Linked DNA regions of Homo sapiens. The protein of the gene in region 1 interacts with the protein of each later gene in a pairwise test. Each region holds a gene or a part of one and is shown in the gene's direction. Other genes may lie near its edges. The genes, in order: PRKAA2, GRAP2, AVPI1 and ZNF212.

Region 1 (7,024 bases):
AGCAGACAGCCCCAAAGCAAGATGTCCATTGGATGCACTGAATACGACTAAGCCCAAATCTTTAGCTGTGAAAAAAGCCAAGTGGCATCTTGGAATCCGAAGTCAGAGCAAACCGTATGACATTATGGCTGAAGTTTACCGAGCTATGAAGCAGCTGGATTTTGAATGGAAGGTAGGAAATTATAATGTAATAAGATCATTTGTAGAAGCCATTTTTCTATATTATAAGCTGCTCTGAGCTCCTGAGTTGAGTATTAAGCCCAACTTTTTCTAGTAATATGCTATGCACATTAAAAACAAAACAAATAACCTCTATAAGGATGAAAAGTGGTTGATACTGGGAACCAACATATTTTGAATTATAGAAGTGTTCTTGGTCAAGAAAAAAGTAATCAACTAGAAATCATCTGAGAAAATAGCTTACCAGTTTCAGCATGCATCATAGCAATGAAAAATCATGAGTGTCTTCAAAGATAGTATGTTTTTACTTTCTCTTTTTTTTTTTAGGGAGGTTATTTTTCTTTTCTCTTTTTTTTAGGTGACAGAGGCAGGTGGCTGTAATAGCTAGTGGTTGATACAAATTATATCATCAGGACATATTTATTCAGTCAATAAACACTTTTCTCCAAGTTGTGATATTCTCTTTTATTTGGCTAGTGCTTTTAATACTTAGAGTACATTTTCCTTACTCTCAGCCCACAGTTTGCTTTTCTTAAAAATTAGTGCTCAATTTCATTTGAGTTCTATTTGAATATATGTGTGGGGAGGGGCATTTTTTCTTTTCAGATATGCCTTTCACTCTTGTTCTTTTCTTGAGGATTGTGAACTTTTAAAGGAAGAAGAAAAATGTGCAAACTTACCACATAAATATGCATTTGACGTGTTCAAATAAATCAGTCATTTTCATTTTATTATTTGTACATGAAATGAATATTTTCTTAAAATCATTTAAAAAACAGATCTCTCTGTTTTGGAGCAGTCTTATTTAGTTAAAAAAGAGACGTTAACATTTTTAAAATTCTGTACTGAAACATTTTGAAATTAGTACCACAGATGTTTTGAAAACCCAAAGCAGTGTTGTTTTTTTGTTTATTTTTTGTTGTTGTTGTTTGTTTTTTTGAGACAGGGTCTCACTCTGTTGCCCAGGCTGGAGTGCAGTGGCGCGATCTTGGCTCACTGCAACCCAGGGTCAGGCTATCCTCTCACCTCAGCCTCCCTAGTAGCTGGGACTACAGGCGCCTGCCACCACACTCGGCTGATTTTTTTTGTATGTTTTTGTAGAGATGGGGTTTCACCATGTTGCCCAGGCTGGTCTCAAGCTCCAGGGCTCAGGCGGTCCACCCACCTTGGCCTCCCAAAGTGTTGGAATTACAGGCGTGAGCCACTGTGCCTGGTCCTCTTTGTTCCTTCTACTCCATAATCATCCATGAACATGTTCAGGCAGAGACTGGACAACCAAATTAGAATTGATGTTTTAGAGTTGATGCTTATCTAGAGTGAAAGCTGGACCCTATGTAATCTCTGGGTTCTCTTTAAGTTTTTCCTTTATCTTTCACTTTTTTCTTCAGTACCCCAAATTTATTCAAGTAGCTTTTCCTTTAAATCTTAATTGCCATACAGTACTGCTTAGTGGGGATTAAATAAATACTAAAGTGAACTACCAGTAATATAAAAAAATTATTCGTATTCCTTTCCTACCTCACCCCTATTAATTATTTGTTTTGACTTTTTTTGCATAAAAAGGTAGATATTTTGTAGTTTATTATTTTTATTGATTTTTCACTTTAGGTAGTGAATGCATACCATCTTCGTGTAAGAAGAAAAAATCCAGTGACTGGCAATTACGTGAAAATGAGCTTACAACTTTACCTGGTTGATAACAGGAGCTATCTTTTGGACTTTAAAAGCATTGATGGTAAGGAAGCTATGCATGCATGAGCTCTGAGAAGATAAAACTTGGCACTAGTTGACCAGATGTTAAAATCATCTCGAAGACATCCGGTGGGTAGGTCCTGCACTGGTTTTTAAGCAATCTAGACTTAACCAAAATGTAAGTGAAGTGAAAAGGATGAAAGACATGTTGAATACCTCTTACCTGGCATCTTTCCACAAGAAGTATCTCCGTGGCGTAAAAGAATCATTTGAAGTGTTGGCCGTGGAGCACAAGTAAGGAACAACAGGGAAGCAGGTTTTACTTTTCAAAATTAACTGACTTGTCAGATTCTTTGTCATATTTCTCCATTCATATTTTATTAGTTAGTATTATAGTGTCTAAACTTTCTCCTTCATCACCTTTCCTCATCCTGGGTGGCCAGGGCGACCAAATAGGTCTCCATTGGGATTTGGGTTGGATTTAGGTACCCATGGCAATCAAGGAGCCAAAGGCGTCAGGGAAAATTGTCATGTCCAAGAACTTAGTGTGTGCCAAGAATTAAACTTGGGTAAACCAAATCTGATTATTCATTTCAGAGGCCCAAGTGGGATAAAACCAGAATAAACTAAGGGTCAGGTGCTGGATGGAACAAGAATGGAACGGAGTTTAGAGTTAGGGAAGTTGTTTTAAACGAAGCATTTAAATTTTACTCTTGAACTACCATCAACTATGTATGGTAGTGTTTATATGGATCCCAGACCTGTTTCATCGAAATTACATGTTGTTGTTATTAAAACGCAGATCCCTGGGAACCACTCCAGACCTATTAAATCAGAATTTCTGGAGATTGGTCCTGGGAATCGTAGAAAATGCAGTTTTAACAAGATTTCTCTCACTTTGCCCTCCACCTCCCCAAGGCAATATATGATGGTGACTTTTGTTTTTACCTTAGTGATTTTTTTTGTTGATATGCTAGAAGAAAATAAGTTGTCAAGGATATGCTTTCTTCACATGCAGAGATATCAGTTTGATTCCAATATCAATGCCGATTACTCCAATTTGAGCAGGACTTAGGGGCCACATTTTGACTGTGTGCAAGTCTTGTGATTGGTAGCGATGTTTGTTATGATTGTTGGAAGGAAGAAGACTGTGTTTCTACAACACAGAAACATGACATTCATTATTAAGTTGCCCTTGCTCAGATGTGTTTACTTAATATTCTGAATATCATAAATTCATAGGAAGGGCTTGGGCATATATACTTTCCATATAAATTGCTCTTCTTTGGTCCATTTCAGATGAAGTAGTGGAGCAGAGATCTGGTTCCTCAACACCTCAGCGTTCCTGTTCTGCTGCTGGCTTACACAGACCAAGATCAAGTTTTGATTCCACAACTGCAGAGAGCCATTCACTTTCTGGCTCTCTCACTGGCTCTTTGACCGGAAGCACATTGTCTTCAGTTTCACCTCGCCTGGGCAGTCACACCATGGATTTTTTTGAAATGTGTGCCAGTCTGATTACTACTTTAGCCCGTTGATCTGTCTCTAGTTTCTTTCTGTTATTGCACTATGAAAATCAGTTATATTCTTTAAATTTTTATCTTACTTTTGGATAATATCCACTGCAATACTAATTGAGAAACATGAATTATTTCCAGGGGCACACAATGCTATTGAAATTACTGAAAACAAAATATCTGACATCTTATTTACTTGTAGAAATCTGTAATTCTATTGTGCCTATGATAAATTCACATAGGCAATATCTTTAATAGGTTAATATCAATGAAGATTTTTAATTACAATAATGAGTTCACTACAGACGATTAACACACCACACTGGCGAACCATCTCAATGTAAGGGTGGTTTGGCAACACCTCCTTGCTTTGCTGTTTGGTGTAGGTAAATCTAGTTTACTTCCTAAATTTCAGTAGGCTTTATGCTGTGTTTATGCCCCCAATTTATTTTAACAAAAGAAGATTAAAAAGTAAAAGAACCACGAGTAAGATATTATTTAAATGTTGAAATCTTAAAAACCTGCCTCCAAGATTTCAGAAGCCAAGTTTTTCTAACAGTATTTGTACAAATACTGCCTAGTGTATTCAACAGAAGGACTGTGGTCATGTAACAGGTAACCACAATTTTCAGGTTTCTTAAAAACAGCTGTAACTAACTCAGGATTTTTATCTTGAGATTTCCCTGAATAATATATTTATCTTAAGAGCCTTCAAGTTTCAAATTAATATTGGAACATCTGGAATTGCAACAACTTTTGTCTTTTACATAAACTTACGTCATTTAAAAAATGTCTTCAAAATCTACCTTTCTCAAATTCTTTTTGCCTCTATTTATTTTTGCATTTCACCAACAGTGATAAAATAGTTAAATGAAACAAAGCAAAGTATCAACAGTCCCTTAAATGAGAATCCTTATCTTTGATCTTTATTTTCTGTGTTAGGTGTTAGGGTCCTGGTGCAGCTCATAATGCTAATTCTTCATTGGAAGCCACTCCCTTCACCTCACCTCACCTAGTCACTATTGTCTTTGTTCATTGTTTGATCCTGAGTGGTTGATTGATATAGCTTTGAATCTTTTCTAGTCCAAGTTTGAAAACACTGTTCTGGCCCTAAGGGCTGGCTATGACCTTTACTGTTGAACCTGATAGGGCAGGGAAGCTTTGAACATCAAGAAAAAATTTTTATCTTAAATAAATAAATATATATATTCACACACCAGTGCTTTTAAGCAAAAACCAGTTTTTTTGTTTGTTTGTTTTGCTTTGTGCAGGTTTTCTTTAAGATTAAAAAAACACAAACTATAGCAGGGTAGATAATAGTTTATTGATTATATTTTGTTTTAGTAAAAGTATTTAATTTTAAATTCTGTGTAATTTATCTAATTTGTATTTATTCATTTGTTATTTTTATGTTGTAATTAACACTTATTTACCTGGATTACCCTAAAAAAATTAAGCTCTTGAAAACAAAAAAATGACATTACCTTGACAGGCTTCTCTTTGCCAAAAGTAATGTATGTTCTGCCAAGAAGCAAATGAGAATGTTAGACTAAGTTTCTCCTGTGTTAGTGGAAAACAAGTGTGTCTATCTTTAAATATTCTTTGAATCAGGAGTTTGCGTTGTGTCACATCATATGGCTTTGCAGATCTTTTAAAAACTGATGTTAAATAACTTATAAGTCCAACTTCTTAATATCAAGATAAATGAATAGTTCACCAATTTGGGAAGGAGGGCGGGTTGCAATTTGAGATAGTTTAAGGTTTAATTATTGAAAGACTGCCATCTTGTGGCACCAAAAGGTAATTTTTACATGATTATTTGTATAGTGATAAGCAGTCCTGCTGTGTTAGCCTGGTCCATTATAGATATGGCATAGTTTTGGGTTCTCTAAATGGGTCCATACCTCTTTTGGGAAAAAACAGGGCCACCTCATAATATTTGCCTGATTATGAATGGAATTACCTTAGAAATAAGGAACTAATCAGATTACTTAACCCCAATGACAAAATCCACAAAAATTTTGAAGGCAGAGAAACAGAAGGAATCCAGTGATGTTTTAGCTCCATTAGTCTAATAGGTCAGATATTAAAAAATTGTTCATATCAAAATTACCTTATATGGATTATTGCCATGTTTTTTGAGAGTTAATTATTTACTGTTTTCTAATTCTTGCCAGTATTTATGAACAGCTGTAGCTTGATATTTACCTACTGAATTTTAGGAGAACTAATGGTCACAGTTTGGGTTCTTTTATGTGTATGTTTTTAAAACAGCTATTTTGTGAATCTAGGTGGTTGGTTTTTAGAAGATTTCAGGAGATGCAGTCCAGCACAATTAGAGCTGGAACATTGTTACAGCAGGCTTTTTGTTGCTCATGGGCAGATAGAGGGAAAGAATCAGTTGTTAGCCCCAAATTTCCACATTTCAGTGTTGTAAACTCTGAATGTGATAGGTAGATGTGGGCTAAGAATAATTTCCTCCAGTGAAGACACGGGAGAAGAGCTTCTATTATGAGGTTATAGATAAGGCCTTAGTTATATCATGGAAATGGACTCCATGTAGTTCTAGAACTGCATTTCCCAAAGTATATCCTGTGAGATGCTCCACAGAAAAAATGATTGCATGGACTAAGTTTGAAAAATGTTGCATGCTACTCTTCCCCTCGAAGATGACAGTGGATGTCAGCATTAAAGACTTTGACAGGTCTTTCTGTGAAAAAAAGAAAGCCACATAACTTTGTTGAACTTTGCCCAAATTAATTTTTCATTTTAAAAAACTTAATAGCCCATGAAAAGCAAATTTGGGAAATACATTTTTTAGGAAAATACTGTCCCAGAATGCCATAATTAGGGTAGTTAATAATTAACACTTCCATTTCTCTTACTGGTTGTTGGGAGAATCTGATTGAAAATTAGAATTACTTTGTTTTAACTTGCAGACATGTTCATCGTGAGTGAATGCTGGATTAAATAGAATTTTCTGTGTCTGCAACTTGTTTCATGACACCTTGGTTTTCTTAATCATCTTGTATTATTATTTGAGTGCAACATTATTCTTATGCATGGGTGACTGAAAAACCTGAAACAAGATTACTTGTTAAAAAAAAGTCTAAGAGACTAATGACTCATGCTTATGGCTCAGTGGGTAATGAATCAGTGTCACTGATTCTTACTTTTAAAATGTGTAGTCAGTGAACATTTTCTAAATACTTTTCTTTGGGATACCATATGAAGATCTAATTCCTTATGTTTCAGTGTAGGAACAGCTACCTTCTCAAATAGAATATGCAGGGAGGGAAGTAGGCAAACCATTTACAAGTTGGGTTTTTGTTTTGATTAACCTGTTAAGAGACACTTTTGTAATCTCTAGTGTTTACATTCCTTTATACTAGCTATCTATAAAGAGAATCCAGAAGGCTAAATTAATCAGAAATAATTATATTTCTATGTCAGGGTATTGGCTATATGTAGCATGAACAATTCTCCATTTTCTGCAAATGGGTTTTTCAGGACAGTTTTATAATTCTGAGTTTGCTTTTTCTTATTCCCTAGACAGTTTGTACTCAGGGAATACAAATTGATTTTTACTGTTAAATGAGACATAGTTTAGAAAAAATCATAAGCAACTATTGTAG
Region 2 (7,024 bases), on another chromosome or scaffold:
ATGTTAAGACATACCTTAAGGAGATAGTGAAGAACAGCCGGGCACAGTGGCTCACACCTGTAATCCCAGCACTTGGGCGGCCAAAGCAGGCAGATCATCTGAGGTCAGGAGTTGGAGACAAGCCTGGCCAACATGTTGAAACCCTGTCTCTACCAAAATACAAAAATTAGCCGGGCATGATGGCAGGCGCCTGTAATCCCAGCTACTTGGGAGACTGAGGCACGAGAATTGCTTGAACCCGGGAGGCAGATGTTTCAGCGAGCTGAGATCGTGCCACTGCACTCCAGCCTGGTCGACAGAGCAAGATCCTGTCTCAAAAAGAGGAAAAAAGAAAAGAAAAGAAAAGATAGTGAGAAAATAACTGAACATAAAACATAAAGAAAAGTTGAAATATTAGTACTCACTACCTAGGTTCAACAATTGCTAACTCTTTGCCGTATTTGCTCCATCTATACCTATTTCTTTCTGAATTACTTGTAAGTTGCAGATAAAATAATACTTCACTCCTAAATAATTCAGTACTCATCTAAGAATAAAGGCATTCCTCTATCTAACCACAATTCCATCATTAGGCCTAAGAGGATAAACAGTAAGTCCTTAATATCATCTGATAGCTAGTGCAGATTTAACCTTCCCCATTTGTCCCCCAAATGTCTTCTATACCATTTTTTAAAAAAAGAATCTAATTTTTAAAAATAAGAACATATTTTGCAGTTGGGTCTCATGCTTCTTTCTTCAACATTGGATGTTTTTAAAGATTACGCCAGTTCTCTTGTACCAGGTCCCACTTTCTGAATTCGTTGTTGCCTCATGGTTAATTTGTTCCTCTACCCACTTTATTTCTCATAAGCTCCAAGTTAGGACTAAAAGCATGATTTGATTTTGATTGAACGTTTTTTGCAAGGTGCCACTGGGTGCTCCATATTGCATCTTATCAGGAGGTACAGAATGCCAGGTTGTTCCACTGTGCATGATGCCAAGTTTGATCAGGGCTTGAGGTAGTGATCTTGCTCAGAGGATCTCTTGTTGTACAGGCACTTTTTCACCCTTTGCAATTAGCGAGTACTCTCAGGGGGTATCTCAAAGTGTATCTCATAAACACTTTGGCATGGTGGCAATATCCTATTTCCCAACAAACTCTCACCCGGTGACTTTAGGTAATAATCTTTGCCTAAATTGATTATTTCATTGGAGTTCATATATATTTTTAATACGCTTTGAAGATGGACTCGACATGCAAATTCATCATTATCAGCAGCAATAGTGGCTGGAAATATTTATTGAGTGCATAAGTTCAGGTAATAATAATAATAGTAGGTAATGTTTATTGAGTGCTTGCTGTGGAGCCAAGACAGCCTCGGTGTGAGCCCAGTCTTTCACTTACTAAGCGAATGAACTGGGACGAGTTATTCTTTTTGTGCTTCAGTTTCTTAAGCTATAAAATGGGATTACTAATGGTGCCTATCTCGTGGGATTGTTCTGAAGAGTAAACGATTTATACATTTAAGGTTCCTAAAACAGTGCCTGTTATTATTGTTATTTGCCAAGCATTGTTCTAATACTTTGTAGGTACTAACTCGTCTACTTCTTCTAATGGTGCAATGAAGAAAGTGCTAATAATACCCTTTTTTCACAATGAGGAAACTGAGGTACGGAGAGGTCTAGTACGTTGCACAAGGTCACTTAACTAGTACCTGGTGGAGCCAGGATTTGAACCCAGGCTGTCTGGTTCCTGAGCACTCTCTCTGATGATGGGCACATGCAGTGAGGAGTGATACAAGTGGAGCTGAGTGGAAGTAGCCCTCACACACACTCAGACTTGAAGTTATTGAAAATCCGGGAGGTTGCCACCCAAACACATTTAAGGTTTAATTCATCTGAATAAGAACAGCATTCCACTAAGCCCAGATAAGTACTCTTATTACATTTACATAGCTTAAGGCTCTGTACAAGAAACCTTGAACATAAAATACTTGGAACAGAAAAGAGTAGGAGAACTATGAAGTAATGGGGGGAAAAAATCCCTGAAAGGAACAATACAAGCGGGGAGTTATGAGACCTGGGACCTCAGAGCCTCGGGGTGGAAGATGATATTTTGATATAATCAGGAGGGAGAAATTTCCTCTCATTTTTCACATTTCTGTACTATATAAGATTTTACCATAAAACGCAAGAGTATAAGCCATTGTCAGATTTATAAAAGGCCATGGTGGATTTCCTTAAGAGACGATGGATGACTGTTGTTAGTAGGTAAATTCCCTGGTTGGTTATCTCATACACTCAGATATTCCATAAGTCAGCCTGTGGCTTCTGAAACTGTATTGAGAAAAAGCTGTATAAACTAGGTGTTGGTCCATGCTCCTTCATTAGCATTACAAAAGGGTTCGACTGCTGAGTTGAATCTTATCCACTCCTTCAGTGGCCATTACAGAAAGCTCTCAAGTGTAATTTTCTAAAGAGAACTAAAAATAAATAAGAAAAAAAAAATCCAGCATTAATAATGGTTCTTTTTGCATTTCCAACACAGTCATTGCCAAATTGGTTCTGCCTTTTTATGTTTTTTAATGAAAAGCAGCCTAATTGATCAATTGGTCATGAATAATACTTCTTCGTTTGTTTTTCTCCACACCCCCCAGCCTTCTAGAACCACGGGCTTAATGTGTCGGCCTACAAATGGTTCATGATTTGTGTTTTTTGTCTAGTGCTTTATGGGAAAATATTAGAAACAAACTGCTGAGAACTCAGTAGGAACTCAGTAAATAATAAGTAGATAGTTCTCTTGTTAAATATGATTTTAAAGAAACTCTTTCTAAATAACTAGGAAATATTACAAGGGAAGTACAAAGTGGGGTGGAAAGCCTGGCTGACTTGTAATTTGAAATTTCTCTTCATCATTTTATAGGTCACACAGTTTAACCCTTTATAAAACAAAATGTAAAGTCTGATAGCTGAAAAGGCTCTCCTCCGCTAAATAGATTTGTTTGAAAATATAGATCATTAAATCGGTAAGAATAACAGGAGAATCTCAACCAAACATTGAGACAACTAAGAAAATTGTCTAAATCTAATACCTTATATCAGTACTTTAAGTTGACCATAAATACGCTGATATCCATAGCACATAGGTTCTTACTGGCAGTGGTGGGGTGGGTGGGGGAAGGGGAGTGTCACAGACACATTCAAGATGTCAACGAAAACTATGAAAACTCTCCCCAATGGGGAAAAAAAACCAACGATGCCTAGCACTTATCCTACGCAACTTTGTACAGAATTTCCGTGGGAAATTCTGGTGTCCATCCATCATAAATCACCTGGTGTCCACCCATATATCCTGAATAGGAAAAATTGTCTTTCTCTAGAGTTATTGTACACTGATCCTGATGGAGCTTTAAAAAGAGTTGTCGTACAGGCTCATTGACTTTGGGAGGACAAGGTGGGAGGATTGCTTGAGCGCAGGAGATTGAGACCAGCCTGGGCAACATGGTGAGGCCCCATCTCTACAAGATATTCTTTTAAAAAATTAGCCAGGCCCAGTGGCCCGCACCTGTAGTCCAAGTTACTCCAGAGGCTGAGGCAGGAGGATCCCTTGAGCCCAAGAGATCAAGGCTGCAGTAAGCCGTGTTCACACCGCTACACTCCAGCCTGGGCAACAGAGTGAGATCCTGTCTCAAAAAATAAATAAGTAAATAAAAAGAGTTGCCATTATCTTGTTTGATCTGGCTATGATCTTTGAGGTAGACAGACCACAGATTTTACCTCTCATTCTGCAGAGTGGGAAAAGCAAGGCTTGGAGAGTTTCCGGGACTTGCTCAAGGTAATTTGCTAATGTCTGCCGGGACGTAGCACCAAGCCTGTCACGCTGTAGGCTGGGCCCCTTCCACAACACTGGTCCAAACACAGGATTCTGGAGATGCAGGAGCCCTCGATGGGCTTCTGGAAAGCTGAATTCTGGCTCTACCAGAGCTACCCACGTGATCTTAAACAAGTCACCTAACTTCCCTGAGCTTCAGTTTCTTCCTTAGTCAAGTGAGAGGTTAGACTGTGTGTTCTCTGAAGCCCTTTGATTTTCTGCAGAAAACCACCTAATCCCACTGGGTCTGGGAACAGAGGGAAATGACCTTTTCTGCCATAGATGGCAAGACCCTTCACCCTTCCCTGTAGGGCATAAGAGCTGGCATCCAATTCTTAACGGATTCCCTTGCAATGTCCAAATCCCATTAGAAACTACAAACATCTCAATAGTGCCTTTGTGGGCTGCTTGGGTGTCATGCCGCTGGCTGCCTCACTTGCTGCAGGGCTGACTGTCCACATCAATTATACTCCAACCCTGTGCTCTGCAATGGGCAGACATCCCATGAGATTTTATTACCCCTCTTGGGTAGTTCAGGGAGTCATATGGAAGTAAATAATGCTGATGGGCTTATTTTGGGCTGATAGATCCTTATCCTTCTAAAGAGGTTATGCCTTTCAAAGGGTACAAAACCTTCTCCTTGATTTTTTATTACGAACAGTTATATCCTTTAATGTCCCAGAATTGTTCTTGGAAGTTGGAGACTCACAAGAGGGCCTGCAGCTGTGAATGCAGAAGTCCTGAGACTAGGGGAGGACATCACCACTCTCCCTTGGCCTTTGGAGTCATCCAAGCTAAGTGCTAATATTTGTGATTAACAGGTGTTGATAGGAAATTGGGCCCCTGTGTCTCAGTCTTTTTGTGCTTCAAATTTTCTAAGTGAACTTCAGGCTGGCAAGTGGAGTTAGATCAACTTGTTGCAGACAGTATCATCTGCTCGGTACCGTGTCAGGTCACTGGACTGTGGGAGGTTATACTGACCAGTGATGAGAGTGACAGAGCATGAGCTTGGCTCCCGTATCCTGTGTTCTGTGCTCAGCCTCACAGATGACTCACTGTGCCTCATCGACTCCTCTGTCCTCGAGTGAAATTATGCCATTCTTTAACCCACTATACAAGAGACTTTTGAAGATTCATGTGTGGCTACCCCCAACAATATCTCATTTGTACAATGCAGAACATGGTGCTTTCTTGTGTAAACAAACTCATTTTGTGGAATTTTTATTTTCTAGATCAATATTTTTAAATAGACTACTAATTCATTTTATAAACCGGGTACTATAAGATTTTATGAGTTGACACTTGGTACCCTGTAAGTATCCAAATAATCAAAGAAGGAGAAAGTGTGAAGTCAAGGAATCCCCTAGCTGAAAAGAAATTCCCAATACCTGGAACAAAAAAGATGGAGCTTTTAGAGAGCAGACTTTTTCTCCAGCAAAGATCCACAACTTCCATTTTTAAATGTAAGACGTAAGGGAGATTTATGATACAGCCTACTTTGTCAGATCATATTATTTCATAAAGTGAAGGGTCAATTAGGTGTTATTATTATCAAGAAAGCATGCTGTAATGCTTCGTCTTGTAGATGCTGTAAAAATTACCTGTCTGATTACTTTAATTCATCTTTTGGCTACTGTCTGCAGAAATTCACTCAGTCCCTAGCTCACAGGTATGCAGACGTACTGAGAACACTTTGGGAAATAAAAGCAAAAAAAACATTGGGTCCTTTCCCCTAAGGAATGAACAGTGTATTTGGGAAACTAGGAAAAACAAACAAACAAAAAAATGGTACCACAATGCAAAACTGATGAGGAGATTAAAAAACAGCTCAAGATGGAGATTTTTAGAAAGAACTTCTTGAAGGAGGTGCATCTGTAGGCTGAGAGAGATGGTTTAGCAAGCAGGCATCAATGCATCCACAAAGCTTTACACTTCAAGGAAATCATAGGAGAAACAGGGTCTTCTTTGCTGAAGATCTGTTTATTTTGCAAACAACAAAGAGTCAGAAGAGCCATGTGAAGTTTCCATGGGGAATCCAGAAACTAAACTTCTGCCACTGGAAATTACCTCAAGATCTTTTCCCAGATAGCCTGCTCTTCCCCTGCTTCCAATCATGTCCCTCAAAGTCTTCTTTTTCAAGCATAAATATCCTTAGTTCTTGTAACCACTCCTCCTATGAGGCAGTTTTGCGTGCTGCCATTATTTTAAGCACCCGCCTCTGATTGGACTCTAGCTTAGGGCCTCCCCTAAGTCACGGGACTCAGAACGGAGCAACGCTCTCCAGGAGTGATCTGAGGATGCAGAACACCATGGGGTAGTTGCCTCCCTTGATCTGTAGCCTATACTTCTATTAATATGGCCCATGATTGCATGAGCCCTTTTGGCACCCATGTCACACTGCTGACTCATATCGAAATTGTGGTCAACTAAAACCCATGAGTTCCCATGCACTACTACTAAGCCAGATCTTTCTTTCTTTTTCTTTTCTTTTTTTCTTTTTTTTTGAGACCAAGTCTCGCTCTGTCGCCCAGGCTGGAGTGCAGTGGCGCAATCTCGGCTCACTGCAACCTCTGCCTCGTGAGTTCAAGTGATTCTCCTGCCTCAGCCTCCCGAGTAGCTGGGATTACAGGCGCCCGCCACCACGCCCGGCTAATTTTTGTATTTTTAGTAGAGACGGGGTTTCACCATGTTGGTCAGGCTGGTCTTGAACTCCTGACATTGTGATCCGCCTGCCTCGGCCTCGCAAAGTGCTGGGATTACAGGCATGAGCCACCATGCCCAGCCAGATCTTTCTTATTCTGTACTTACACTGTTGATTTAAAAAAAAAAAAAAACCCTAGGACAGAGGTTTAAATGTAAAGACATTTATTTCTATTTCACTCGATCATTTTGATAACAACTTGTCCAAATCTTTCAGAGCTAGGGTATTAGCTTCCCCTCCCTGCAGGTGAGTACTTACCTGCTGGTGCAGCTAATCTCATGATGGATCTCTGGCCTCTAAAGGGCCAGAACTTCATTGTCTCTTTCCTATCCATAAATTCTCTGCAACCGTGGATGAATCTGCATCCTTAGACAAACTAGTGGGCCTCAATCTTCCTAAGTAAGATAGGAATAAGTGTGAATGGCCATTTCCTCCTTGCGGTGAGGATATGCGACAATGAGTTCGATGTCTGC
Region 3 (7,446 bases), on another chromosome or scaffold:
CTCTCGTTGCCCAGGCTAGAGTGCAGTGGCACAATCTCGGCTCACTACAACCTCCACCTTCCAGTTTCAAGCGATTCTCCTGCCTCAGTCTCCCAAGTAGCTGGGACTACAGGCGCCCATCACCACGCCCAGCTAATTTTTTTGTATTTTTAGTAGAGATGGCATTTCACCATGTTGGTCAGGCTGTTCTCGAACTGCTGACCTTGTGATCTACCCGCCTCAGCCTCCCAAAGTGCTGGGATTACAGGCGTGAGCCACGGCGCCCAGCTTGTACCATTTTTCTATAAGGACTTTGCTATTTTTCGCCTGTCCAGATTGTCACTTGATAGAAGAGGGCTATAGTCTAGCTGCCTTGTGTAATGTCATAAGCAGAAGGGGCTTTCTTAAAAAGTTTAGAATGCCCATGATTATTTATCAAGAAAATCAGAGTTAATTCAAAAGTTGCACTGTTGCATGTCAGTTGAGTGTAAAAGTTCTCTCTGCTTTGCCCAGAACAGGACAAATAGCAATAAGAAACCCATGGGAATAAGTGTCAGCCCCATTAGGGAACCATAACTGTCCAGCTGCTTGAACCATTCCTGCAGGATAGAAAGAGGGAAGGAGTCCAATGCTGGTTTAGTGTCTATAGCAAGGTGTATATTAAGAACTCAGCCTACAGTACCTCAATTCATCTTCACAGCAACACTGAAAAGTGGTGTGATTATTCTCATTTTAAAGACAAGAAAAAGAGGCCAGGTTGGGTGGCTCACGTCTGTAATCCCAGCACTTTGGGAGGCCGAGGCAGAGAGATCACGAGGTCAAGAGATAGAGACCATCCTGGCCAACATGGTGAAACCCTGTCTGTACTAAAAATACAAAAATTAGCTGGGCGTGGTGGCACACGCCTGTAGTCCCAGCTACTCAGGAGGCTGAGGCAGGAGAATCACTTGAATCCGGGAGGCAGAGGTTGAAGTGAGCTGAGATTGGGCCACTATACTCCAGCCTGGTGACAGAGCAAGACTCTGTCTCAAAAAAAAGAAAAAAAAAGACAAGAAAATAGGCAGAGGAATTAAGTCATTTGCTTAAGGTAAAACAGCTAGAACCCCCTTCCTAGACTTTACTTCCTTTGAGGGTAAAAACCAGTACTGAGTTGAACCATATTCGAGCCCAAGACAAAAGAAAAAATATATGTCCTATATGCACTTACCTTCCATATTTTGAACCAAATAGAACAAGTGGATAAAAGCATTCCAATAAAAAAAAGACTACATATAAAGTTCCATGTTATTCAATCTGTTCACATGTTATTGTCAACTCTCATAAAGCCACTTGTCAGGACACGCAGTGGCAGTCTGCCTGGGAACCATGGGCTGATTGGTAATGACTGTTCCCATTGCAAAATAATGCAAGGTCATAAACAATAGTCTGCCTATATTTTAAATGTTGATATTCTGTTCATCATGGATTTTTTGCATTAATTTCGATTTTTAAAAATATTGTGTTAAGATATTATTTATCTTGGGTTTCCTGAATTTTTTGGTGCCCTCTTAAATTTTATGCCTGAAGGGAGTTCCTCACTAAACTCACTTTAATCTAGGCCCCTGGGTAAACTCAAGTTTGGGCCTGAATTTCATGAGGTTTCCATTCCCCAGAGTTGACTTTCTCTAAACAGGGCCCCGTCCGGGGTGATTACTGTCTCCAGCACCATTCTGTGGGTCTCAGATGTTACTCCACTTCTGGTGAGGCTTACATGGCCCACACAACTGTGGAGTGCCCCACCTTCTCGCCAGAAGTATTGAATCACAAAGCTGTAACAACAGAAATGGTTCCATTGTGTGGTAAGCACATGGTCACATGCCTGCAAAAATGTTTGGAGATACCAGATACGCTCCACCCAGCCTTAGTCACATCTGAGCCAGAAACCACAAGTTCCCAATTCCTACCTCGGGATGCTCATCTAAGCTCATGGCATCAGAGTTCCTAGGTTCACCCAGCACTGATATGCCAAGAGTCTGGCTTCCCCATTGGTTAGAATGGGCCAGTGGGAGTCACTGGCTCAGAAGCTCAGCCTTTGGTTTAGGAGCCTGCACAGTCCCCTCCTTAGCAAAGTAGTTGGCTGAAAGTCTCTGCACCAATACTTTCCACTGGAGACGAACATCGCTGATTTCTTTGTTCTTTTCAACAGTTCCCCAGGGCTTGAGGAAAAGTGAAGAGAAGCCACTGTAAAAACCTTTTTAACGGGCCGGGCGCTGTGGCTCACGCCTGTAATCCCAGCACTTTGGGAGGCTGAGGCCGGAGGATCACGAGGTCAATTGATCGAGACCATCCTGGCCAACATGGTGAAACCCCATCTCTACTAAAAATACAAAAATTAGCCGGGCATGGTGGCCTGCACGTATAATCCCAGCTACTCGGGAGGCTGAGGCAGGAGAATCGCTTGAACCCGGGAGGCAGAGGTTGCGGTGAGCCGAGATCGTGCCACTGCATTCCAGCCTGACGACAGAGTGCGCCTCCGTCTCAAAAAAAGCAAACAAACAAACAAAAAAACCTTTTAGCGGCCGGGCATGGTGGCTTACGCCTGTAATCCCAGCACTTTGGGAGGCCGAGGCAGGTGGATTACCTGAGGTCAGGAGTTCAAGACCGGTCTGGCCAACATGGTGAAACTGCATCTCTACTAAAAAATACAAAAATTAGCCAGGTGTGGTGGTACGTGCCTGTAGTCTCAGCTACTCGGGAGGCTAAGGCAGGAGAATCGCTTGAACCCAGGGGGCAGAAGATGCAGTGAACTGAGATGGTGCCACTGCACACCAGCTTGGGCAACAGAGTGAGACTCTGTCTCAAAAATACAAAACAAAAAACCCTTTTAGCCACAGCACAACAACACTTACGCTGTTTTTGTGCAGAAGGACAGAGAGAGGAACTGGAGATCATGGGGTGAGGACAAATAGCTCCCAAGCATCCCCTTCACGCTGCAACAAGGAATTCACAAAGCCCCATGTGCTGGCTCTTCCCCTTCCCACCCACAACTTTTACAGAAGAAAAATCAAGCTTAAATGGATAAGAGGTCAGCTATGAAGTAAAAAGGAAGTCAGGGAGACCCAGGAGCCTTTCCTGAGCATTGCTGAACAAGTGCACAAACACTTCATCTTCCAAGGACAAAACAAGCATTTATCAGAGGCCTACTGGACACCCTGCCTCCACTCCTGCCCCCTCCAATCCAAGTTCCAAACTGCAGCCAGAGTGACCTTCTAAAAACACAAACTTGTCATGATGATGAAATTTGCAAAGTGCTGACTGACACTACTGGTACGTGGTAAGTACTATAAAATGCCCGTTACATAAACACAGTACATATAATGCCATTCCTTGTTTAAACCCCTCCAAGGATCACATGCAACCTTCTCTGCCTGCCTCTGCCTTCTACTTCCCACCGTGCTCTCTCTTGCTAGCCTTACTCCGGGTCGCATTTAATTCCTCCGGAGCCAAGCTACCTCCTGGCCCAACCAAATGCCTTTCCCTCTTTCCTTAAAGCAGTCTCCCCAGATCCACTCCTCTTCATTTGACCAGTTTCAACTCCTTCTTTATATCTCAGCTTAAATGCTGCTTCTTCAGCCCTCCTGAACCTCCCAGAGGAAGCTTAGGTTCCTCCATATTTATCCTCTTATAGCCATAACATTGATCACAACTGTAATCACATACTCCATGTTTTAGGTTGTTTAATGCCTGCCTCCCTTACTAGGCTGTAGACTCCCCAGGACAAGGGCTATAGGTCTTTCCGTCTCTCTTGTTTACGGCCTATCAAGGAACTCGGACAGCATAGGTCACTAATGAACATTTCCGAATGCATACAAACTTTAAAATACGGTCTTGTTTAGGTAACCGGCCCAAAGTCGCACAAATGACCCAATATTTGAACCCACGACATTCTGGCTTTGAAGCCCAAGGTCTGACTCCAGCAGACTGCCCCCTCCTCTCCCTCAAAGCCGGAGCCAAACGGTGGGCTGGGAGGGGACTTGAGCGGCAGAGTCTGAGGATCTGCAGAGGGCCACGCGCTGCAAGGCAGTCAGTGCCGCGCGCGCTGGCCTCGGGCCCAGGAGAAGGGGCATCCGTCACGTGTACCCGGCAGGGCCAGCTTTCGCCGCACCCTGGGGCAGGAATGCAGCCCCGCCCAGCTCCCGCGCCAGCAAAACCGCGCTGGCCCTGGGGACTGACGTCAATGAAGGGGGCGCCTCGGGCGCCGCGCGGGGGCGGAGAGGGCGGTGGGCAGGGCCCGGGCAGACACGCCCCCTCACCGCCGCTCCGCCGCCGATTAGGTTTGAGGAAGCTTCGCACTCCGCTTTCGAGGCCAGCGGAGGCGGGGGGCGGGGATGGACACGCCCCCTCCCTGTCTCCCACCGATGATTGGCGCACGGAACTCCGCCTTGGGTTTGGAAGGCTCGCCTGGGAGCTCATACCTGGCTAGGGCCGAGGATTGGCTGTTCCGGGGCTAGGGAGCGCTTTCTCCCGGGAACCGCGGCTGTGACCCAAGTGGCCCGGACCAGTTTGGGGCTGCGTGCGGCCTGCCTCAAGCAACCAGGTACGTAGGTCGGCGGCCCAGCTCGGCGCTGCGGTGGGAGCCGGAGGGCGACAGTCAGAGCCGGGGTGCCAGCGGGACGCGACCGCCAGATCCACTTAGGACCCCGTCGTTCTGCGAAGCGGCCACGTCTGAGTCCCGGGGCCTCCTCGTGCTGCAGATGTCGCCTTAGGACCTCGGCCAGGATACCCTCTGCCATGCTCTTGTGCTGCCCGTGATCACCGACTGGCCCTTGTAAGCACCTTCGCAGAGCTGCGCCTGCCCTTTCTGAAGGCTGTGGAAGAGGTTGGAGTGGGCGCATCTTAGCTTGCCCCATCCCCATTTGAGGTCTGTCGGAGCTGCCCTTCAGTGTGGTGAGTACCTGCTCCAATTCTCCACCGGGCAGTGGAGTGCAGAGGGTACAGAGGCTAGCTTGGGAGTCCTGACTTTGGATCCCTCCCTGCTCCTTCCACAATCTACAGAAGCAGATAGCCTCCGAAAGGCTTCTGGGACCGACCTTCCCCAGAAGACCTCCTCAGCCATCTGGCAGGAACAAAAATAACAGTGGCTTGAGAGCCCGGGTGCTGGGGTCAGACTGCCTGGGTTCATGTCCCAGCTTCCATCACCTGCCAGCTGTGTGACTTTGGGTGTAGCTTTCTCATCTGTAAAATGGGTATAACAATAGTGCCACCTTAAGTGAGGAGGAAAGAAAGCACCCATCTGAACGTGCTCTGTTCTGCGCTTGACACTGAACAAGCTGCCTCTATGATTTTAATCATAAAGCTATGATTTAAAAGTACACAGATTTGTTGATGGCTGTGATGATGAAAATGACAATGATTCTATAGCCCCTGGTAGTCAAACAGCCTTTCCCTTCATCATTTATTCATTCAACCAGCATGCATAGAATGTCTGTGGTATACCAGGTACTAGAAGGAATGCCGTCACAAACTTAATCTCCCTTTTCCTGTTAAGAGTTATTTATACTCACCATTTATTTTAAAAAGCTTATTTAAAATTTTATAGAGGCAGTCTTGCTATGTTGACCAGGCTGGTCTGGAACTCCTGGGCTCAAGCAATCCTCCCACCTCAGCCTCCCAAAGTGCTGGGATTACAGGCGTGAGCCACCAGGCCTGGCCTTATACTATTTTGATGACGAGCAACTTGTGGCAGGGGAAACTGAGACTTATCCAAGGTCACCCAGTTAGCAGCACAGCCAGAATTCAGGGTTCTAGAAATCTTGAAAGGGTTATCCCTAGATCTAGTAGCAGTTTATTTCCAGGTCATATATGAGAACTGGTCTGGGGAAAGGGCCCAGTTCCTTTCTCCACCTCCAGGGGCATGGATTTGGAGGCCAATGTATATCCAGTTGTCTCGGCATACCTCCCTGAGGCTAGGCCCTGCTGGTGGGGAAGCCCACACAGCGATTTGAACTGGGCTTCCCATTTGAGGAGCCACAGATTTTGGCTGCTGTCCAGTGGCATGTCTGTATAGGATAGCAGGCCAGGGTCCCAAGTGTTGATTCAGGCCTTGGGCCAGAGCCTCCAGTAATTTTTCTAAGAGCCCCTAGGCCCCTGATTACAGAGATTATTGCTATCACCTGGGTTATTGGAAGGGGGCCTCCTCCTGCATGAGGACCTAGGAGTTGCCAGCTCACCCAAATGTGTTCTGCCTCTGGTGGTTACCTGTGCCTCCCTGGGACTGCAGTGAGATACTCTCCTAGAATAGCTGTCTGAACTGAACTTCATATATTGCAAAGAGTGCTCAATTGCGCGCCATATTTATATATTGCAAATTCATTGCATGGTGAGTCACTTTTTAAATATATTTCTTTGTTAGGGTTCCACAGTTCTTCACTTATTGCCTGTTTCAAAACAAGTTGAACTTTGTCATTTTCAATGTTTGGTATTTCCTTTGGGGTTCACTTTCAACCTAGTTTGTGTCAAATTGAAGTATTTTGCAATTGGTCTTTACTCGTTTGTACACAGACCCATACTTACCTTCTTTTATGTCAGTTCTGAAATGAAAGGTCCATTTGTAATCTTTTAATAGCCCCATGGTTTCATTTTCTAGTTTTCAAAAGTACTATTGTGCAAGTATACACTGACTTTTCCTGGACTAAGGTCTTCTCCAGGAAATTGGAGGGAAAATAACTATTGAACACATGGAATGAGACAGGAAAAGTTTCCTTTGATAATAAAAGTGTTCTGATTCGACATTTCATCGGTTTTCCCAAAACTTAACCATCTAATCCTACCTGGAATCAGCCTAGTTTTATTCCCAGCCTCACTCTGCTGTCTGAATCCCAGAATAAGAGACAGAGCCAAGAGTGAGGGGCTTGGCCGGTCATGGTGGCTCACGCCTATAATCCCAACACTCTGGGAGGATGAGGTGGGTGGATCACTTGAGGTCGGGAGTTCAAGACCAGCCTGGCCAACATGGTGAAACCTTGTCTCTACTAAAAATACAAAAATTAGTCGGGCGTGTGGTGGGCACCTGTAATCCCAGCTACTTGGGAGGTTGTTGAGGCAAGAAAATTGCTTGAACCTTGGAGGCAGAGGTTGCAGTGAGCTGAGATTGCGCCACTGCACTCCAGCGTGGGTGACAGAGTGAGACTCCGCCTCAAAAAAAAAAAAAAAAAAGAGTAAAAAGAGTGAGGGGCCTCAAAATCTGGAGGTGCTAGGCCCTCCCTAAGGTTCAAGGAGGGTTGAGGCTGGAGGCTCAGACTCTCCCTGAGGGTTTCTTGGTATGTTTGTGACTCGCAGCTCGCTGAAGCTGTGGAGTCAAAGCCTTGCCATCCTGGGAGAGGTTGTTGGGAAGTCAGGCTCCAAGCCATTTCCTCCCCGAGGCAGCTGCTGCTACATGATCCTTATTGCCCTTCTTTTCCTGGGGAGGTGAGGCCAGATATCACCCTT
Region 4 (7,839 bases), on another chromosome or scaffold:
TTTGAGAAAAAAACAGGCATACATATATGTACTTATATAGGCTAATATGTATGCTATAAATCATACACATGATACAAATTTAAAGGATAAGATAATTTTTGTGTGTGTGAAACAGGGCTTTATTCTGTCACTCAGGCTGGAATGCAGTGACGTGATCACAGCTCACTGCAACCTCGACCTCCTGGGCTCAAGTGATCCTCCTACCTCAGCCTCCCGAGTAGCTGGGACTGCAGGCGTGTGCCACCATGCCTAGCTATTTTTTTTTTTTTTTTTGTAGAGATGGAGTCCCATTATGTTGCCCAGGCTGGTCTCCAACTCCTGGCTTCAAGCAATCCTCCCACCTCAGCCTTCCAAAGTGCTGGGATTACAGGCATGAGCCACTGCACCTGGCCAAGATAAATATTATTAAAACATTATTTTAACAATGTATATTATTTGTTTGTTCAAAGAATACTTTTTTCTTTCACTAAAAATGAGGGTCTGGGGTGAGATGATGTCTAAGGTCATTTTCAGCTCTGCATGTTGCATTCATATTCTACAAATGTAGAGATGCCAGGCTACAAGTACTAAATGTCTATTTTCTTGATTCTTGGAATACCAATGCTACTAATGGGAATAACTGTGAACTTCATTTAAAAGTTTTTTAAGCCGGGTGTGGTGGCTCATGCCTGTAATCCCAGCACTTTGGGAAGCTGAGGCGGGCGGATCACGAAGTCAGGAAATTGAGACCATCCTGGCTAACACAGTGAAACCCTGTCTCTACTAAAAATACAAAAAAAAAAAAAAAAAAAAAAAATTAGCTGGGCGTGGTGGCGGGTGCCTGTAGTCCCAGTTACTCAAAAGGCTGAGGCAGGAGAATGGCGTGAACCTGGGAGGTGGAGCTTGCAGTGAGCGGAGATCACGACACTGCACTCCAGCCTGGGTGACAGAGAGAGACTCTGTCTCAAAAAAAAAGAGGAAAAAAAAAGTTTTTTAAAACGGACTGGGCGCAGTGGCTCATACCTGTAATCCCAGCACTTTGGGAGGCCGAGGCGGGTGGATCACTTGAGGTCAGGAGTTCGAGACCAGCCTGGCCAACATGATGAAACCCCCTCTCTACTAAAAATACAAAAGTTAGCTTGGCGTGGTGGCACACACCTGTAATGCCGGCTACTTGGGAGGCTGAGGCAGGAGAATCGCTTGGACCTGGGAGGCGGAGGTTGCAGTGAGCCAAGATTTCTCCACTGCACTCCAGCCTCGGCAAGAGAGCGAGATTCTGTCTCAAAACAAAAAACAAAAAACAACAACAATTTTTTTTGAGATGGAGTCTCGCTCTGTGGCTTAGGCTGGAGTGCAGTGGTGCAATCTCGCTCACTGCAAGCTCTGCCTCCCAGGTTCACACCATTCTCCTGCCTCAGCCTCTGGAGTAGCTGGGACTACAGGCGCCCGCCACCACACCTGGCTAATTTTTTGTATTTTTAGTGGAGACAGGGTTTCACCATGTTAGCCAGGATGGTCTCGATCTCCTGACCTTGTGATCCGCCTGCCTTGGCCTCCCAAAGTGCTGGGATTACAGGCGTAAGCCACCACACCCGGCCAACAACGTTTTTTAAAACAGCATATGTCAAGATTTGAATGTCAGTTGGAAAAAACAAATGGGTAGTTTCTAAGAGACACAACAAAGCCACATTTATCCTGCTGAACTCATTGCAATACAAGGCTTGGACCTTGCAAAAGTAAAGCAGAGAGAAGAAATTGCCTGTTATCAAGTGCTTGCTGTATGCCGGGCACTTGGCTACATAAGCACTTTACATAAATTCTTTCTTTTAGTTCCATCAGCAACCTTAGGATGAGGTGTTCACATTCTCAGTGGAAGACAAGGACACTAGGGCAGAGTGAGCATGAGCCACAGCACTTAGTAAATGAAGGATCTGGGACTAAACAACAATAATGATCATGAGTACTTCTTGAGCTCTTCCTCTGTGCCAGGTACTGTTCTAAGCACTTGACTTGAATTCACTCATTTAATTCACACAACTCTATGAGCTAAGTACTGTTATCTATTCACCAATAATCATGAGGAAACAAGTACTAAGAAGTTAAAGACCTGACCAAGTTTCACATCTAGTAAGTGGCTGTGATGGTGAATACTGAATCAACTTGATCGCATTGAAGGATGTAAAGTATTGATCCTGGGTGTGTCTGTGAGGGTGTTGCCAAAGGAGATTAACATTTGAGTCAGTAGGCTGGGAAAGGCAGACCCACCCTCAATCTGGTGGGCACAATCTAATCAGCTGCCAGCACAGCTAGAATATAAAGTAGGCAGAAAAATGTGAAAAGACTAGACTGGCCTAGCCTCCCAGCCTACTTCTTTCTCCCATGCTGGACCCTTCCCACCCTCGAACATCAACGAACATCAGACTCTAGGTTCTTCAGTTTTGGGACGCAGACTGGCTCTCCTTGCTCCTCAGCTTCCAGATAGCCTATTGTGGAGCCTTGTGAGCATGTGAGTTAATACTTAATAAACTCCCCTTTATATAACATTATATATATATCCTATTAGTCTGTCTAGAGAAACCTAATATACTGGCAGTGCTGGGCTAGGGACCCAGACGGTCTCACTCCCCAGCCCCACTTAGCAAATCACTGTGCCACACTGTCTTCATCAGCCCGGGGGACTGCAGGCGCCACACCATCTCCACCAGCCCACGTGATTGCAACCCTGGTGCCTGGTGCTGCCTCCTTTGCAGGCTGGAAATTTGATCTGAACCTTTTTCCAGACTTCCAGGCTCAGAGTCTGGGATGCTGAAACATGCTCATTTTCAAGAGACTGAGGTATACATGTGCATCAGCTTCACCTGCATGTTGCCTCCCAGAAGCTACCTGGCAACATGCAACGTCAGAAGGTTGCCTTGTGAGTATAGAAATAGAATAGAGGGAATGAGTTCTACGACCGAACTGTTTAATGACCTCAGCATCCTATGTCCTGATATTGTGCCTGTGGAGGATAACATTTTTATTTTATTTTTAAAGACAAGATCTTGGTCTGTTGCCTACGCTGGAGTGCAGTGGTGCGATCGTGATTCACTGCAGCCTTGAACTACTGGGTTCAAATGATTCTTCCACCTCAACCTCTTGAGTAGCTGAGACTACAGGTGTGCACCACTACTCCTGGCTCATTTTAATTTTAATTTTAATTTTGTAGAGACAGGGTCTGCCTATTTGCTCAGGTTGGTCTCAAACTCCAGTGATCCTCCTGCCTTGCCCTCCCAAAGTGCTAGGATTACAGGCATGAGCCACCTCACCCATGACACATTTTTTTTTTTTTCTGTATCTGACACCAAGAGTTTGTTGGTCTGAGAGATTAGGTCAGACCCTCTGGACAGGATCTCCCTGACTGACCGGTTTCTTCAGCCTGGCCCATTCTTTCTCTAGATTTATTAATGATTCAGTGACGTGCCCGTTGATCTAGTTGCCCTGGAAATAATGCCTCTGTTTGAGATGACATTTCATATCCTTACACTCTGATTCACCATTCAATCATTTACAAATATGAACACTTCTGTGTACAACAAATGGAGGATACAGTAGACAGACATTTCAGTGGAAGAGATACAGATAATTAATATGTAAATGAGTGAAAAAGAGAGATTACTTCAGATGGTGATAAATGGTATGAAAAATTTCCAGCAGGGTAACGAGATTGAGTATTGAGATGGAGGATGGTGTGGGGCTGTAGAAAGGGGGGACTGGGGATATCTCTCTGAGGATGTAGAATCTGAACTGAGCCCTGCATGTGAGGAAGGAGCCAGTCATGATCTTAAAAGTTTCGTTCTCCGCCGGGTGGGGTGGCTCACACCTGTAATCCCGGCGCTTTGGGAGGCTGAGGTGGGCGGATCACCTGAGGTCGGGAGTTTGAGACCAGCCTGACCAACATGGGGAAACCCCGTCTCTACTAAAAATACAAAATTAGCCAGGCGTGGTGGCACATGCCTGTAATCCCAGCTACTAGGGAGGCTGAGGCAGAAGAATCGCTTGAGCCCGGGAGGTGGAGGTTGCAGTGAGCCGAGATTGCGCCATTGCACTCCAGCCTGGGCAACAAGAGCGAAACTCCATCTCAAAAAAAAAAAGTTTCGTTCTCAGAGGAAACACTTCACGCCTATCCTGTGAAGTGGAAGTTCATTGCTTGTCTCCAGAGAGACAATGGTATAAATTAGGCAGCTATGGTTGCCGTAGTGTTGCTGGTATTGGGGATTAAGTACATGGCGATTAAATGGTCATGTGGCCGTGCTTTCCAACAAAAATTCCAGACACATCGTCTTACATGTAGCATGAGGACTGGAAATATTTGAAATCAGGGTTGTCTTGGACTTTCCAAGGCACATGATTACCATAATTAACAGGCTACAGAGGGCTGGCCTGGGCCTGACCCCACGCTCCACACTGTTGATATGGAAACTGTTCCCAGTTTCTAAAAAGCCAAATAACAGGTGAACTTTTGGAATAAAATCACTTGCCTTTTGGAACCATATTTCTTTTCCCCAACAACATTACATGTTCTTTCCTCAGCAAAAAGTCTGAGTTGTACACATTTTTGAATCCCTCAAAGCATTTAGCAGAGTGCTGGGCATACGGAAGACAGCAGGATCCCGTGGCTTTGCCTGAAACGCGGAACCTGGTCTTGACTTTTGAGTGACTGAGCCCTCCTGGTGCCCGCACTCTGGCCGGGAGTGCCAAGCAGCGTTCTCCCTCCCGCCGCACGGGGGCACAATGGGAAGCCTGCACAGTGAGGAAGAGCGGCTGGAGCCGGTCTTGTGCCGGGGAGGTCGCTGCTCCCAGAATGCACCTGGCATCAACACGGCGGCGGCGGCGGCGGCTTCCAACAGGCTCTGGGGCGCCGAGCGGACAGGAACGCAGCACGGGGGCTCCGAGGCGGGGTCTGGGTGTTGAGGGGCGACTGGAGCCATGGCGGAGTCGGCGCCTGCTCGGGTAAAGAGGCACCGGCGCGCTGGCTCGAGGGCGCGTTGGGGATGGCGGAGTCCCCTGCCGGGGGCGGGGCTTCGCGGTTTGGACGCCGCCGGGGTCTTGGTTTCCCGGGGCTGCCGTTGGCGCGGGTGAACGCGGACCCTCCTCTTCGCGACCCCAGTGCTCTGCCCTTTTTTCCCTCCGCTTCCTTCTGCAGCGGGGTCGGAGCCTCGGCGCCGTGCGCCCTTGCCCAGAAACTTCTCTGACGCTTGCTTTAGGTTGGTGGATTTGTGACCCTGCCCACACATTTTCTCTTTCGTGCCAAAAGAGCCCGTTCCCAGGTTGGAGTGTTTCCAGATTGGAAACGGTCTCCGTCGCTACGAGTGAGCTCTCCCGCTGCCCGGGAGACCCCAGGACTTGCCTCTCTGCGACCACCTCCTCTTCGGTCCGATGTGTTGTCGGTTTTTCCAGTGCTGCAGATTTCTGTCTGGGGGTTGCAGCCACAGGTTGAAGTCAGCCTGGGCTGCTTCTCCTTGGGGACGGATGTTATCTACAGTGCAGTTGCTGCATTTTGTTTGTAGAGCTGCCCAAACTCTCTCCTTCACCCCCCCCCCAACACCCCCCTCCCAGCCCACCGACCATCCCCATTCTGGGAATGTCAAGATACGGAGTTTGGTGTGAGGAAAATCCTATTTGTGGAGTCACGAAGCTTTCAGCTGTCCATTTGGGTGATTTTAGGCAACTGTGTTCGCTTCTCTGGGTCTCTTTCGTTTTCTTAACTGTAAATCGAGAGTGTTGGAGTAGTTGCTAGATGATCTCCAAGGCTTTAAGTTTCCTTCCAGCTCCGACATTCTCATACTGTTCCCATACTGTTTCAAAGTAGTGGTTAATTTAACAACACCAGAGGGTTTGCAACGGAAGGGGCAGCTGGAATTGAATTGACTTTTAATGAAGTGTTCCTTGGTCTAGAAACACTTCGAGAATCATGTTAGATCTTTGTGAGAATGGAGGGCTAAGGAAATTCTGTGGGGAAAATTTGACCATGAGCAGGGTGCGCTATATTTGATTCTTGTAGAAAGTGCGTTAAGAACTAAGAACGGAGAGATTGGGAGACTTAGAGAACACAGTATTTGCTTTCAAGGAAGTTAACAGTTGAATTGGGAAGACAAGACACAAATGTTTACAATATTAACCTCATCTGACTCCTATAAGCTAGGCTGAGCCAGTCAAAGACTTGGCTTTTCCACAAGATCTAGTTAGTGTTAGAGTCCGGCGAGAGGATTCTGCCACAGTTCTTCCTGCCAGGTCACTCCACAATTACCTACATGTCGTCAGTAGACCTTGTTAGGAAGAAGCCTTAAAGGTCCACCACAGGCCAGGCGCAGTGGCTCATGCCTGTAATCCCAGCACTTTAGGAGGCCGAGGAGGGCGGATCACGAGGTCAGGAGTTCAAGACTAGTCTGGCCAATGTGGTGAAACCCGGTCTCTACTAAAAATACAAAAATTAGCCGGGCGTGGTGGCGGGTGCCTGTAGACCCAGCTACTCGGGAGGCTGAGGCAGAATAATCGCTTGAACCTGGGAGGTGGAGGTTGCAGTGAGCTGAGATCGTGCTATTGCACTCCAGCCTGGGTGACAGAGCAAGACTCTGTCTCAAAAAAAAAAAAAAAAAAAAAGTCCACCACAATCCCAAACTATGCCTTAAATAACATGAATCTGTCGTTGTAGAACTTATTCAAATTGTTCTTGAGCCTGTTTCTCTTCTCAGACATTTCAGGTGTCTGTCATTTAACAGTAAGCTCAAGTAGGTGCCCTGATGAAACAACTGAAAATGCTGGAAAACCCTGCACATAAATGCATTTGAAATGTATTTTAGTAAAGAATACTTGGAGCCCCAAAACTTAAGCGAAAGAGGAAACTCGAAAGTGATAGAGTTCTGAAGCCAACTTTGAGGGCATTGGCCAAACATTCATCTTTGGTGTTTATGATTCAAGGGACCTGCAAAATGGAACACACATCTCAGAGCCTAAGATGGAAAGTCTAAGAAGCTCCCTAACCCAATCCCATGAAGCAGAGAGTTCAAAGGGTAACATTCTGTGTAAGGGTGAACTGAAAGTAAGGTCTGACCTTCAGATGATTGCAAAGTAAGTTGTTAAACCTTGGCACTGAGATTACAGGCGTGAGCCACCGTGCCTGGCCATAGTTTCGTTTCTTTTCTTTCTTTTCTTCTTTTTCTTTTCTTTTCTTTTTTTTTTTTTTTTTTTGAGAGAGTCTCGCTCTCTTGCTCTGGCTGGAGTGCAGTGGAGCAATCTTGGCTGCCTGAAACCTCTGCCTCCCAGGTTCTAAGCGATTCTCCTGCCTCAGCCTCCGGAGTAGCTGGGATTACAGGCATGCGTCACCATGCCTGGCTAATTTTGTATTTTTAGTAGAGATGGGGTTTCACCGTGTTGGCTGGGCTGGTCTCTGAACTCCTGACCTCAGGTGATCCACCTGCCTCGGCCTCCCAAAGTGCTGGGATTACCACTGCATGAGCCACCGCACCCGGCCTAAGGCAGAGGGAATTCTTAAAAGCAACCAAAAAAAAAAAAGACTACCTTGAAATGAAGTACAGCAAAATGAATGGGGGCCAGCTTCTCAACAGCAACCATGGAAGCTAGGCAAAAGTAGAATGATATTGTCAATAGGCTGAAAGAAAGTAACTGTGGTCCCATAGTTTTATATGCAGCAAAAATGTTTCAGAAACAAAGATGTAAAGAAGACATTTTTAGACAAATTAAAAATGACAGTTTGCTACCAATACACTCTTAGAAAAGGAAATTCTAAAAGATATACCTCAGGTAAAATGAAAATTTTCCCAAATAGAAAGTCTGAAAATATGAGAAGATGTGATGATGCAT

What was found.
Region 2: the proteins of PRKAA2 (region 1) and GRAP2 interact in binary tests that used the Homo sapiens proteins (3 or more experiments, as listed by UniProt).
Region 3: the proteins of PRKAA2 (region 1) and AVPI1 interact in binary tests that used the Homo sapiens proteins (3 or more experiments, as listed by UniProt).
Region 4: the proteins of PRKAA2 (region 1) and ZNF212 interact in binary tests that used the Homo sapiens proteins (3 or more experiments, as listed by UniProt).

What each region holds. Positions count from the first base shown.
Region 1 is NC_000001.11:56,704,304-56,711,327, forward strand, and holds part of PRKAA2 (5'-AMP-activated protein kinase catalytic subunit alpha-2), read left to right. Parts: coding exon 1-172; intron 173-1,788; coding exon 1,789-1,915; intron 1,916-3,171; coding exon 3,172-3,410; 3' UTR 3,411-7,024. UniProt on the Homo sapiens protein: Catalytic subunit of AMP-activated protein kinase (AMPK), an energy sensor protein kinase that plays a key role in regulating cellular energy metabolism.
Region 2 is NC_000022.11:39,904,073-39,911,096, forward strand, and holds part of GRAP2 (GRB2-related adapter protein 2), read left to right. Parts: intron 1-7,024. UniProt on the Homo sapiens protein: Interacts with SLP-76 to regulate NF-AT activation. Binds to tyrosine-phosphorylated shc.
Region 3 is NC_000010.11:97,684,225-97,691,670, reverse strand, and holds the start of AVPI1 (arginine vasopressin-induced protein 1), read left to right. Parts: upstream 1-4,429; 5' UTR 4,430-4,905; intron 4,906-7,446. UniProt on the Homo sapiens protein: May be involved in MAP kinase activation, epithelial sodium channel (ENaC) down-regulation and cell cycling.
Region 4 is NC_000007.14:149,234,835-149,242,673, forward strand, and holds the start of ZNF212 (zinc finger protein 212), read left to right. Parts: upstream 1-4,816; 5' UTR 4,817-4,944; coding exon 4,945-4,968; intron 4,969-7,839.